Regions from separate parts of the Homo sapiens genome. Here region 2 is linked to region 1. Evidence: fine-mapped expression QTL. Tissue or cell type: whole blood. Region 1 holds a variant in brackets; the other region holds the start of a gene. All regions are shown on one strand. Distances are between the middles of the regions.

Evidence for each region. PIP is the estimated chance that this variant, and not a neighbour inherited with it, causes the effect.
Region 2: SFMBT2 starts here. The variant in region 1 is fine-mapped to the expression of SFMBT2 in whole blood (INTERVAL, PIP above 0.99). The same link has a PIP of 0.9 or more in blood mononuclear cells and monocytes.

The regions. Positions count from the first base shown.
Region 1 is chr10:7,179,217-7,181,976 of GRCh38, forward strand. All of the region lies in intron 16 of SFMBT2 (Scm like with four mbt domains 2), which reads right to left. Among named protein-coding and RNA genes, the nearest start is that of SNORD129, 6.2 kb to the right of the region's middle. The variant T/C (reference allele first, on the strand shown) is at 1,279.
Region 2 is chr10:7,409,897-7,412,396 of GRCh38, forward strand. SFMBT2 (Scm like with four mbt domains 2) reads right to left here and starts at 1,138. Exons shown (of 21, transcript NM_001387889.1): 1 at 965-1,138. RefSeq lists a silencer at 1,012-1,151 and enhancers at 1,387-2,307, 2,308-2,500.

The DNA of each region.
Region 1 (2,760 bases):
AGTAATCTTCTGTAGATAAGATCATGCTTTAAATCCTACAGCCTTGAATGGCTGTTGGTTTTTCTAGGCCCTCCATTGACCCTATGTGTAGAGACTTCCCTCTCCGTGCCTTTGAAGAGGGACTCCAGGACCCACGTTGGGGCGGTTCTTGCTTATTGCTTTTGTTGCATTTTCGAAAAAAAAAAAAAAAAAAAAAAAAACAAAAGAAACAGCACAACTGGGAACACCGTATGTTCCTCGTGTTGTGGGAAATGGAGAGTAAAAATGGGAAATGTAGAATAAAAGTGCTTCACGGCTACATTTTCCCTTGCAGTTTTATCCACTACGAGTTTGGTGGCCCCACAACTTTGTTGGAAAGAGCTCACTATCGAGATTCTTAGAGTCCCTAGAAAAATAAAATAATGAGACATAAGAACGCAGGAGAAATGTGCAAGCCAGGTCAGAGGACAAACTGCAGAACAAGGCTCAAAGATGAGACTGCTCATCAAACCTCCAGGTGACGAAGCACACACACGCGCTGCCACATCGGAGCGACGGATGAAGGGAGCGGTTATCTGGGGGAAACAGAACCAGGCTGGCTTAATTTTCTCTTCCTAGTTTGGGATGATTTCACGGAAACAAGTGTTTCAGTAAAAACTTTCACAATAGGGAAAAGCCCATCTAAAGGTATGAAGATTTAAGTTATAGCATCATTTAAAAACAGCGGGCTCCTTTTCTCTTCCCTGCCCTTCCTGAACAATTCTGTTTAGAAGCCATGGCAGTGAGGGGTAGAGGGGACTGAGTAAGGATAGGGCACGGGCTGGGGAAGCTGGCGGATGGCGTGCTGCCTGGACCCCTTCACTGGGGGGCTTGTTGCCCCACCTGCTGGGAGAAAGCCTTCAGTTGTGGCCCTTTTATTTAGGTTTGCTTTTTTTTGCTTTTTTTGAGACAGGGTCTCACTTAGTCATCCAGGCCAGAGTGCAATGGTGCAAGAGCTCAGCTCACTGCAACCTCTGCATCCTGGGTTCTAGCGATTCTCATGCCTCAGCCTCCTGAGTCACTGGGAATACAGGTGCCCACCACCACGCCTATAGTGGTAATTTTTTTTTTTTTTTGTATTTTTAGTAGAGATGGGGTTTTGCTATGTTGGCCAGGCTGGTCTTGAACTCCTGACCTCAAGTGATCTGCCCGCCTTGGCCTCCCAAAGTGCTGGGATTACAGGCGTGAGTCACTGTGCCCAGCCCCCTTTAGGGTTTTGCAAAAAGCTGCCTTGGCCCTGCCCTTCCCAGAAGGGCCCCA[T/C]CCAGGGACTGACTGTGGAGGAGGTAAAAAGGTCACTGGGGCCCAACTCCGGACAGCCATGAAGAGCCTTTAACCCCAGAGCTGCTGCGGGTGCCTGCCTGGCCTCACTGTGGGATGATCTCTGTCTTCTCAATCCCACTGCCTTCCCCTCCCTTCCAAAGGCATTGGTCCCAAGGGCCCTCCTTGATGAAACCCATCTGGGAGGAACCCACCAGGGAAAAGGATGGAAGTGCGGGAGGGACGCAGGGGGGAGGCCGTCGCATGTGGGGACAGCTGTTGGGAGGGTGAGGATACTGGAGAGACGCTGGGGCCTGACGAAATAAATACATACTCCAAAGGTGGAGAGCACAGGCCAGGCTTCCACTGTCACAGCCGGAGTTGCAAGTATAGGGAAGGAAAAGGCTAGGATGAACCCTGGCATGCTGGACTGGAATTGGAGCCTACGTTCCACCACAAGCGCACAGAAAAGGGTGAACACAGCAGGCCTGAGCCACTCCCGTTAGAAAAGCCTGCTTACAGGCAGATCACGAGGTCAAGAGATTGGGACCATCCTGGCCAACATGGTGAAACCCCATCTCTCCTAAAAATACAAAAAACAGCTGGGCATGGTGGTGCACGCCTGTAGTCTCAGCTACTCAGGAGGCTGAGGCAGGAGAATCGCTGGAACCCAGGAGGCGGGGGTTGCAGTTAGCCGAGATTGTGCCACTGCATTCCAGCCTGGGTGACAAAGTGAGACTCCATTTCAAAAAAAAAAAAAAAAAAGTACAGGTACATCCCTAATCAGAAAATCTGAAATTCAAAATACTCCAAATTCTGAAATTTTTGAGTGTCAACATAATATAAGTATACTGCAAGTATTCCAAAAGCTGAAAAAAGATGAAATCCAAAACACTTCTGGTCCCAAGCAATTGGAATAAAGGATATTCAACATGTATTTGGGGGTGACGGGGCATCAGGCCTTCAACTTATCCCAAATCAATCAGGAGAATGAATAGTATCTTTATTCTGTACCTCCAATATTTCTGTAAGTATGAGATTGTTTCAAAAGCACTTAGAAATAATATAAAGGCATGTAGTCATATAATGACTCAAACTATACCAAGCTGACTCTACAGCAGACTTTCCATCACATGAGCATTTCTGAGCACTATTGGTTGAGTACACATGGACACATCCAGATGCTATCAATACATTAAGGATAAATTGATTGTGAAATCCAACTCCAACCTGAACCAATAAACAGGCTTGTTTTGGAGTTGGCCTACAAATTAGGGTAACTGTTGGAACAACTCTTTCAAAGGCATGCTGAACATACGAAGATACAGCCCTATTAAAAAAAAAGGAGAGGCAAAAGACAGCTCTAAGAGTTTACCAACTGGCTGGGAATTAACAGTAAATCTGCATTTATGTAATGAAGCTACTGACATATTCTCAAGGATCTTACAGCATTTGATCACTTGATCCTTACATGATCTTCCCAGG
Region 2 (2,500 bases), 230 kb after region 1:
ATGAGTGTCCGGCCACCGAGAATCAGCCACTTCCCACCCTCCAGGATCCCCCAGCTCCCTCCAGCCCCTTCCCACCGCCCCTGGTCAAAATCAATAAATACATCTCGCAGTTCCTACAGTTGCATTTTGGCGGATTTCTGCAAAACATACACACACATACACATACCCACGCACGCATATTAAAAAATAAACTCCAGAACCAGCTCAAGTCAGCAATTTTGAAAGGGGGTCGAATAAGAGGAGACAACCGGAAAGCCCCTAAGTGACAGGATATTACTTTAAAGAGAAAATAATGAACAAAAAGACCATCCTCGCTGGAGCACGCTCCAAAACTACTACTGCCAATTTTATTTCAGTTGCTCAGGCAAATGTTTCCAAGGGAGCGATTCCGAATGTCTGCACGATTTTTACCCCCATGCCGGTCTCCGATTCCCCGTCCTCACCATCTTTTTCTCCCACCCAAACCAAAAGAAAGGGGAGACCCCAGCGCGGAGGAGACGCGGGAGCGCGGGGTAGGTAGCAGCGGCGGCTGCGTCGCTAAAATGAGTGCAGAAACGAGGAAGGTGGGCGGCGGGAGGGGACAGGCTGCGCCCGGGGAAGGAGGACACTTTGCAACTCCGGACGGACTCCCGCACGGCTCGGCTTTTCCGAGCCCGGAGACGCAGGCGAAGGGGACCCGGGAAGCAAAAATGACAACCTGGAGCGCACAGAGGAGTTTGAAGCTTCGCTCAAGTGCAGTCGCTTTCTTCTCCTGCCCTTCTCTTTCGCTCCCCTGCACCCTCCCCAGCCTTCCCCCACCCGCCACCTCCAACCCCAGCTCCCTCAGGCTTCCTTCCTTTTTTTTTTTTTCCTTTTTTTTCCTAGGCTGGAAAAAGCCCCTGACCAGCGCACTCAACCTGCGGGCCGAAGGGCTGCTCTCCGGCCAGCCTGGGCGCCGGGGACAGCAGCCGGCGCGGCGTCCTACCTGGTGAAGTTCGTCCTGCCCTCGGCGTGGACCCAGGCCCCGGTCGCCGCCCGGGAGGGCACCGGCCTCGCTCGCTTGCTCGCTCGCCCGCCCTTGCCCGCTCGCTCCCCGCCCGCCGCCTCCCTCGCGCGCCCGCTCCGGTCCTCCGGCTCCCACTACAGCTCATTCCAATATGGCATCCTCTCTGTGCGCATGCTCGGCGCTCTTTTTTTTTTTTTTTTTTTTTTTTTTTTAAGATTTTGTGTGTGTGTGTATGTGTGTGCGTGCGCGTGCAGCGAACTCCTTCAACGACCTTTTCCAGCGCTTGCAAAATTTCTTAAGCCAATTAGCCTGCGGGACGTGATCGGCTCCTTCCCCAGCCAGCTCCGCGCCATTCCCTGCGCCTAAGCAGGCGGGCACCCCCAGGACCCTGGGACCTTCCACGCCCACGCGGCCTCCTCCCCACCGCGCTCCCCTTCCTCCTTTTTGTGAGCTCCCTCCATACATGATCTGCAGAAAGTTCCCATCGCGGGCGTTTCCGCACACCCCTCCGCAAGGACAACTGGGCAAACTCCCGTTTCCCTGGCTGCGGTTCGTGAGCTGGGTTTCCAATGGCTCAGTCGACCGTGTGCACAAACTTGCGCTTTATCCGCCGGGGATCGCTGGGAGCGGAGATAAATTCAATCCCCAGGGCAATCTTGGCCCCGCCCGCCCCACCCCATCCTGTGCTTAAATAGAGCCTTTCTTGAAGCTGCGAACATTTCCAGGCCCCTTGGGCAGGGCTGGAGGGGCCGAGGAGAGCTATTCGAGGGAAAGGTGCCCCGAGGGGCAGGAAATTAAGTTGGGGCTGCCCGGGCGAGCTGCCAGGTAGCCGTGCTCGCCACGGCGTCTCATGGGGCACCTAGCTAGTGGCGGGCCTCATAGGGCGGGAAAAGAATCGTCGCTCACACCCCAGCAAAACGTGGCCCTCGACGGTCCGTTGGAGAGCCCCGGCGGCCGTGAGCCCCGGGCAGGGCTGGACGTCTGCGGAGCCCTCGGGCACTTTGTCCCGGGCGCCTGGGGAGGAACGCGGAGCTCCCAGGGCCTTAGGTGCAACGGCTGCGCAGAGCCCAAACGAAATGTCCCCAGTGCGGAAAAGCCGGTGACGCCCTGGTAGCAAGACCAAGAGCTTCCGAAGAACGCTGCGCCCTTAACTAGGGGGCCTCGCAGAGATGCCTGTGTGGGCCTGCATTGTATATTTCTGCGAAATAGCGAATGGACACGTTTGCTCAGGGTTTTTATGGTTGCCAAAGGGGGTAAAATTACCCAGTCCCCCAAATCTGTGTCCCATGAATCCCTCTCATAGTACCCCTCTCCAGGGGGCCAAGAGGTCCTCCAGGTCCCCGTGGGTTCGCAGCTCCACCCGCCCTTCCTCGCCCTGCATCCCTAAGGAGAGGTGTCCGCTCTGAAGGGCTAGGGGCCAGCCATGGAGTGAGGGGACCGGGGCTGACCACGCGCGGCACAGACAGAGGTCCTCAGGCGGGCCCTCTCCTGGACGGTGGGGCCGGAGCTGATCTA